Linked DNA regions of Homo sapiens: all the other regions are linked to region 1. Evidence: fine-mapped expression QTL. A gene starts in region 1. Each other region holds a variant in brackets. All regions are shown on one strand. Distances are between the middles of the regions. Region 1 holds the start of PNMA6A (PNMA family member 6A). Region 2 has its middle 12 kb from the start of MAGEA1. Region 3 overlaps MAGEA1 (MAGE family member A1).

The links. PIP is the estimated chance that this variant, and not a neighbour inherited with it, causes the effect. A credible set is the group of variants that fine-mapping cannot tell apart.
Region 2: its variant is the best candidate, but not a certain one, in a credible set for the expression of PNMA6A in tibial artery (GTEx, PIP 0.59).
Region 3: its variant is the best candidate, but not a certain one, in a credible set for the expression of PNMA6A in whole blood (TOPMed, PIP 0.81).

The regions. Positions count from the first base shown.
Region 1 is chrX:153,071,004-153,073,761 of GRCh38, reverse strand. PNMA6A (PNMA family member 6A) reads right to left here and starts at 1,308. Exons shown (of 2, transcript NM_032882.6): 1 at 1,156-1,308; 2 at 1-827. The coding sequence starts at 699.
Region 2 is chrX:153,166,271-153,169,028 of GRCh38, reverse strand. No RefSeq gene overlaps it. Among named protein-coding and RNA genes, the nearest start is that of MAGEA1, 12 kb to the left of the region's middle. The variant C/A (reference allele first, on the strand shown) is at 1,352.
Region 3 is chrX:153,179,642-153,182,399 of GRCh38, reverse strand. It overlaps MAGEA1 (MAGE family member A1), which reads right to left. Exons shown (of 3, transcript NM_004988.5): 2 at 151-223; 3 at 1-75. The coding sequence starts at 10. Among named protein-coding and RNA genes, the nearest start is that of MAGEA1, 1.7 kb to the right of the region's middle. The variant C/T (reference allele first, on the strand shown) is at 944.

The DNA of each region.
Region 1 (2,758 bases):
TCCAAACACCTGGGCCAGGGCCGCCAGACAGTCCTGCGCCGTCCTGGCGGGGTTCTCCGCCAGGAGCGCGTGCACGAGCTGCAGGGCGGTCCCACGCAAGCCTTCCAGCAGCCTCCTCCTCCTCTCCCTTTCCGAGACCCCCTGCCACACATGCAGCATTTCGGTGGTGTGGTCTAGCCAGACCTCAAAGGACTCCTCCCCTGGGGCTGGCTGGTCCCTCCCGGAAAACACGCCCAGGCTCTGGCACCTCACGGCCTCCACCCAGGGCTGGACCGCCTGACCGATGGATCGCAGCCAGCACACCCTGCGCAGCCCCACACCCAGGGCGCCGGCCACGCTCTCCACCATCTGCCCCTCTTGCTCCGGGAAGTGGAACACGCGACCGAGACCGAGAAACTCCTCGCCTGAGCAACGGGGCACAAAGACCACGTTCCACGGGCCCCCAGTGCCGGGGATTTCCCTGGGGACCAAAGCATAGTTGACTTCCCGGTCGAGCTCGACCAGGGCCGCGGTGGCATTATCCTCCTCTCGAAACGCTTTGCCTAGCACTGTAAAGTGTCCCATAGGCCTCAGGGCAGCCTCGAGGGACTCTTGGAATTCGGCATCATCACAGTCCTCCGGGATGCCCAGGATGAGCAGGCCCCTGCGAGCGTTGACCCCCATCCACCGGCACCAGTCCTGCAGCATGGTCACCGCCATGCCCGCGATTCTGGCCAGTGCCGGGCTGACACGAGGGGCAGGATAGGGTTCCCAGCGCGGACCAGGGTGGCACGGGGCGGCGGGGGTGTGGGGGGATGAACTGGGGTCGGAGCCCAGGTCTCCACAGCCTGTGAATGCGAGCGGGCGAGAGCGAGGTTAATGCCCACCCCTCCCCACGCCCACGTCCACGTCCACGTCCACTCCCACCCCCAGCCGCCCTCCTCCCCTGGCCGCGCCTCTGCAGCCAGGCCCCGCCCCTGTCCCGCCCCGCCCCCCCGGGGGGGTGGTCCCTGCGGGTCTTGGCCTCATCCCCGCGCCGCCCCCGGACCCCGGACCCCGGACCCCGGACCCCGGACCGCTGCCCCGCAGGCTGCTTCAGTTCTGTTAGGGCGGACAGGCGAGGGGCGGCGGAGTCTCCCGGGACCCAGCGTCCCCCTCCCCGGGTGGGTCTGATACCTTTTCCCGGGGCAGGGTCCCTCCTGGTCCGGGTCCCCACAGGGCGCGTCGGGGGCTGCGCGCCGCTGCGGCGGCGGCGGGGTCGGGCGCCCCTGGCTCCCCGCGCGGGCGTTCCCTCTGACTGTGCCTCTCCCTCGCTCGCTCGGCGTTTGGGCCGGTGCGCAGGCGCCTGCTCGCAGCCGCTCTCTGCAGTGCGGTCACGCGGCCGGGGTGCGGCGGCGGTGCAGCGCGGACCCCTCCGCGTCGCCGGCCCGGGAGAGCGCAGGGCCGTTGCCGCGGGCGGGTCACGTGGCCTGGCTCTCGCCGCCTTCCCGAGCGCCCCAGGACCCCGGGTGACGTCACCTGCTCCTATCCCCTAGCCCCACCCCCACTCCCCTCGCGCCGCGGGTCCCGGGAACACAGGCGCCAGCCCACCCCCACCCCCACCGGGGTGTCCAAAGGTCTGTGGGCCGCAGGTCCCAGCGCCTTTGGCTCTCACCACAGCGGTTCCTGGTCCAGGCCTCTGCCCCTCCCGCACGTGCCCCGGAGGCAGGCGCCAGCGGGGCGACGGGTGTGCACCCCGGCGTGCCCACCAGAGGGCCAGGGAGTGGTCTGAGGTGCGTCCGGCAGCTCTGCGTTCTGGCCAGGGTCAGGGAGCCGGGTTCTGGGGCCTGTGCACCTGCTCTTGTCCTCCCCCTCCCCGTCCAGGACTGGTCCTCTGGCTGGCAAGGCCAGGCGAGGCCAGGGGCACCTGGTGCGGGTGCCATTCCGTGGAGGAGATGCCCCAGGCGCTCACGCAGCTCACGCACACCATCCTACGGAGGGTCTGCCATCTCCCCGCTGCCCATCCGGCTTCAGGGACCCGCAGCCCTCCGGCCGAAGCACTTTGCTGCCCTGGTGCCAGGAGCCAGCACCTAGGAGGGTGACCCAGCACCCAAGTATGCCCGGGCCTCGTCCGTTTTGCAGCCGCAAGTCCCGAGTCTGGGTCTCTGCCTGAGTGTGTGCCTGGAAAGGTAGTCCGCGCGGAGTGGGCTACTCAATTTGTCCCCTGCCCCCTGTGCCCTCACCAGCCTGATGGGCTCTGGGACATTGCTCTCTTGGCCCTGAGGGCAGCATGGGTGTCGTACCTCCCTGGAGACCTCCGTCTGTCAGGGCCTGAGTCAGCCTTCCATAGGTCCTTCCCCAGTCCTCTGTTGCCGGGGCTAGACACTGCGCCAGGGCAGAGCAGCCTCCGCTCAAAACAGAGATTCTGCGCCCGTGGATCTGACCACCCTGCACCTGACCCATCATGGGAGGCTGGGGCCATGTGAACAGCATCTCCACCAGGCAGGTGGCAAACAGGTTCCCACGGGGTCACACCTCTGGGTGTCGTTCCCTCATCCCCTTCTCTTTCCTTGCCTGACCTCCTGTTTGGCAACTTGCTGGCCAAGGTTTCCCCCAAGCGTCCAGCTCGCCCAAGCTCCTTGCTGAATCACAGCCCCAGAGTATTTGTCTATGACCCTGGGGATGGACATTCCGGTCCTTCCCACTGTTTGGCTGTTGCAGACACTGCTGCCAGTGGCATCCCGCATGCCTGTCTGAGCCACCACCGTCAGCCAGAAAGACTCTGGGGTGCACAGCAGGC
Region 2 (2,758 bases), 95 kb before region 1:
GTGAAACTCACTCACTGTCATGAGAACAGCCCTGGGGAAACTGCCCTCATGATCCAATTACCTTCAGCTTGTCCTGCCCTTGACATACGGAGATTATGGGAATTATAATTCCAGGTGAGATTTGGGTGGGGACACAGAGCCAAACCATATGAGCTATCCAATTGTTCCAGACCCAATTGTTGAATACACTGCCATTTCTCTCCTCTCACCTTCATTTGCATCTTTATTAATAATTAGTTGTCTATATATGCATATACATGTGTATATACTATTGGGCTTTATTCCCTTCCATTGATATATTCTTATAATAATGATAATTCCGACTACACTGATCATTGTTAGTTTATAAGCCTTGAAATGAAGTAGGGTAACCCCACCACATTTGTTCTATTTTTTATTTATTTATTTATTTATTTATTTATTTATTTATTTATTATTATTATACTTTAAGTTTTAGGGTACATGTGCACAATGTGCAGGTTAGTTACACATGTATACATGTGCCATGCTGGTGCGCTGCACCCACTAACTCGTCATCTAGCATTAGGTATATCTCCCAATGCTATCCCTCCCCGCTTCCCCCACCCCACAACAGTCCCCAGAGTGTGATGTTCCCCTTCCTGTGTCCATGTGTTCTCATTGTTCAATTCCCACCTATGAGTGAGAATATGCGGTGTTTGGTTTTTTGTTCTTGCGATAGTTTACTGAGAACGATGATTTCCAATTTCATCCATGTCCCTACAAAGGACATGAACTCATCATTTTTTATGGCTGCATAGTATTCCATGGTGTATATGTGCCACATTTTCTTAATCCAGTCTATCCACTGTTGGACATTTGGGTTGGTTCCAAGTCTTTGCTATTGTGAATAATGCCGCAATAAACATACATGTGCATGTGTCTTTATAGCAGCATGATTTATAGTCCTTTGGGTATATACCCAGTAATGGGATGGCTGGGTCAAATGATATTTCTAGTTCTAGATCCCTGAGGAATAGCCACACTGACTTCCACAATGGTTGAACTAGTTTACAGTCCCACCAACAGTGTAAAAGTGTTCCTATTTCTCCACATCCTCTCCAGCACCTGTTGTTTCCTGACTTTTTAATGATTGCCATTCTAACTGGTGTGAAATGGTATCTCATTGTGGTTTTGATTTGCATTTCTCTGATGGCCAGTGATGGTGAGCATTTTTTCATATGTTTTTTGGCTGCATAAATGTCTTCTTTTGAGAAGTGTCTGTTCATGTCCTTTGCCCACTTTTTGATGGGGTTGTTTGTTTTTTTCTTGTAAATTTGTTTGAGTTCATTGTAGATTCTGGATATTAGCCCTTTGTCAGATGAGTAGGTTG[C/A]AAAAATTTTCTCCCATTTTGTGGGTTGCTTGTTCACTCTGATGGTAGTTTCTTTTGCTGTGCAGAAGCTCTTTAGTTTAATTAGATCCCATTTGTCAATTTTGGCTTTTGTTGCCATTGCTTTTGGTGTTTTAGACATGAAGTCCTTGCCCATGCCTATGTCCTGAATGGTAATGCCTAGGTTTTCTTCTAGGGTTTTTATGGTTTTAGGTCTAATGTTTATTTTTTAATGTTTTCTTTGGCTATTCTAGGACCTTTACATTTCTATATCAATGTTAGTGCTAGCCTCCCAATTTCTATTTTAAAAAATCTGGAATTTGGATTTTGATTGCATTGAATCTATCAAAAAAGTTGAGGAAAAATAAATGACATCTTAATATTCAGTTTTCTGACTCATGAATAAAGTTTGTATCTCTATTTACATATATCCTCATTGAATTTATCTTTGTAATGCTTTATAGTTTTCAATGGACAGATCTTCTACATCTTCTGTCATATTTATCCCTTTCAATTTATATTTTCTAATGTTAATTTAAATTGTACTATGTTTGTCTCAATTGCCAATTGTTTATTGCTATTATTAAAATACAAGTATAATGGTCTTAAATCCACCAACATTGCTAAAGTTGTATTCATTCTAGAAGCATTTTTACATTGATAGGATTGTCTGCATATACTCTTATATTATGTAAATGAGGAGGTTTTTTTTGTATTTGTTCCTTTCCAATTGTAAGGTCTTTTGAAAAAACTTTGTTACACTGGAGAGAACCTCAGGCACAGTGATGAACTATCCTACACAATCCCACCCTGCTCCATGAACTCATCAGTGTTAGGTTGTAGTTTCCTACATGTAAACATCCTGCGTGATTTCTGGCATGAGAAAATCTGCCTCATCCTCCCTACACTGCTAAAATCCAAGCCCCGGTACTACACCTACTGAGTATGGGTACTACACCTACTGAGAGGGTCATGACCTCACAGTTGATGGAATACTCATGTGATATCCAGTGGAGCAAATGTATTCACTGAAATTTGACAGCTTGAAAGCAGTGATTTCAGACAGGGGAAAACTGAAACCCCAGGATATCAGGGGAAATTCAGCCAGATGTCGGGCGAAATTCAGCCAGATATCAGGCAAAAATTTTCTGTTTTCTGTTTTCCCTAAGTGTCAGCCAGTCTGAGAAATGAAGGGACAGAGTCCAAAGAGAGAAATTTTAAAGTTGGGTGTCCGGGGGAGACATCACATGTCAGCAGGTTCCGTGATGCCCCACAAGCTGCAAAACCAGCAAGTTTTTATTAGTGATTTTCAAAAGGGGAGGGAGTACCAATAGGGTGTGGGTCACAGAGATCACGTGCTTCACAAGGTAATAGAATATCACAAGGCAAATGGAGGCAGGGTGAGATCAC
Region 3 (2,758 bases), 110 kb before region 1:
CAAGAGACATGATGACTCTCGTCAGGGCAGCAGGCAGGAGTGTGGGCAGGAGCTGGGCAATGAAGACCCACAGGCCTGGGGAGAGAGGGAGTGTGTGAGAGGCCTCAGCTGAGAACTGAACCTTGGAGACTCTAACAAAGGCCTACTTACAGATCTTCTCCTTGGTGCTCCTCTGTGGCCTCCAGGGAATCCTGTCCTCTGGGTTGGCCTGTCCCCTGAAAACCTGAAGGAGGAAGTGAGAGGGTACTCAGGGTACAGCCGGCCAGCAGAGGTCGATTCTACAGGACTGACAGTAGGGAGGTGAGGCCAGACTCTGTGGAGTCCTATGTGTCCTGTGGCAGGTGGGGCCCTTGGTGTGCATTCAGGGCAAACATTCACTGCTGGCACACCCTGTGCATCCTCTGCTCTGTGACCTGAGGATACTGTCTCAGACCAAGGCCTCACTGCCTGGTTCCTGGAGCTCCAGGAAGAGGAATCCACGGGCCCTCAGGGTGCAGACCGCAAGCACAGCCCTGGCTTCTCAGTGCTACCAGGAGGGTGGGCTGGACTCTGTGACATCCCCACTCTCATGCAGTGGATGACCCCCTCTGTTCTCACGCAGGGCCCTTATATTTTTCCTGGCAGGGCCTGGATCCTGCCCTTTTGCTGGTCTGAGAAATCCAAATCAAGAGTTCACATCCATGATAAGGAATGGAAGGACAGGAGGGGACAAACATCTGGCCACACGTGCCTAGGTCCTTGGGGAAGGGCAGCAAGAGATATCAAAATTCATTGGAATTAATGTGTCCTGGGTGAGGTGCCCGCTTGGTCCTCACCTTGACTCCTGGCAGGGCCTGGGACGCTCCCTCTACTGACCTGAGCGCAGCCTTCTCAGACCAAGGCCTCCCCGTCCCTGACATCAATGATCCCAGGATAACGGAAGGACCTCGGCAGACGGCCCAGC[C/T]CATGCTCTCTGGGGTGACAGCAGGGGCAGGGCTGATTTCTGTGCAGTCTCCCTCAGTGTTCTGGTCCTGGGGTACCCTCAGTCCTCCCTCATGTTCCTCACCCGAACGCATGGCAGATCCTGGGACCGCTCTGTCTTTAGACCAGATGGGGGTCCCTACGTTGACCTGAGTCACCCTCTGAGAATGAGGTCCTCACCTGCCCCAGATCTGGAAACAGGAGTGAAAAGAAGCCACATCCTGGGTGAGGTGTCCAGGGCTGACCCCTTTGGTTCTGGGGTGAGGATTCCAATAGCCTTGTCTGTCTCACTCATCTTTATTCCTGCCAGCGCCTGTGCTTCCTCAACCCCCAATTCCCTGACATGAGTAGACATCCCCCCTTTACCCCAAGACCCCATCTCCCTGAGGGCCCCCCAACTTCCTGCCTGTGGTACAAGTGAGAATGGAACATACCGCCATCCCTGATCTGGTCCCCCTAGAGCTACTAAAAGGGGACAGCCAGACTGTGTGGAGTCCCTTCTTTCTGAGCCGGGGATATCCCCAGTCCTCATGAAGGGGGCACATCTTGGGCCATATGGATCCTGGAACTCCTCCCTCTGTTGACCTGAGGCCCCACTTCTCAGACCACAGCTCTGTCCTGTCACCTCAAAGATGCAGGAAATATGGGCCATATGTGGCCACCGTGCCCTGGACCTCTCAGGGCCGAGGTCCACACTGATCTGGATTCCAAGGTCCCCTGAGTCCTCCCTCCTCTTCCTCCGCGTAAGCCTTGCAGGCCTGGGTCCCACCCCCATGCTAATCTGAGTCCCCATCATTCTGATTCTTGAGGCCAGAAGTGGCAGCCTCAGTCTCAGACAGGGGTGCGGTGTCCTAGGGTGCTGGGTCCTCTGAGGCCTCCCTCATCTCGCAGTAGGGCCCTCCCTCTGCTCCCCTGAGGCCCTGTTCAAGCCCCTTCCCTCCATCAGCCCTGGATGGGGACGTCAAGATCCGAGTGCCTGGCCGCCATTCCCGTGGCTTCCGTGGGTTGACAGCAGGGATTCTGACAAGATGAGGTTGGGGGTAGGGGGTAGGTATGGGAATGTGAGTGGGGTGGCGGTGGAGATGAGGAGACAGGTGTGGGTGGGGAACCCTCAGTTCCCTCCCAGGGTCCTGACCCTAATGCCGGGCGGATGCCTGGACCTTGATGCCTGGGCCCTGCCCTCTCCTGACCAACCCTGCCCCGGTCACATAAGCTATGACTACAGATTGCCCTGTGGGTTAAGTGGCAGTGGGACGGGACGGGGGGTGGTCCAGCTGAGACATCTGTCCTGGCCGGGTGGTCCAGGGCTGGCAGCAGGGGTGGTACTGGATCATTTTGGGGCCATCTACCTGGGGTGTGTGCCTCCTCAGTCCTCCCTCAGCATCTCACCTTGCCTCCTCACAGAGCCTAAAACCACTCCCCTCAGTGGATCTCAAGCCGCCCCTCAGAACCATTAAATGAACCTGGCTTCTCTCAGATCTGTGAGGTTCAAGTCAGTGGTTTCACATCGGGCCATCCAGGGCTTCCCTGGGTTGAGAGCAGGGGCAAACCGGATTCTGCCAGAATGGGGGAGGCGATGGGAGTGGGGCACATGAGAGAGATGAGGGTGGGGTTGGGGGCAGTGAGGGTGAGGTGGCAGAAGGGTTGGGGCTGGTGCTGGGGCTGGAGGGTGGTGGTCAGGTGACGGAGTAGGAGTAGGGATGGGGGTGGAGGTGTAGCTGAGGAGATGGGGGTTGGGTGGGGAATGGGAATGCGAATGGGGTGGGAGTGGGGATTGGAGTGCAGTCTTGGGGGCCCA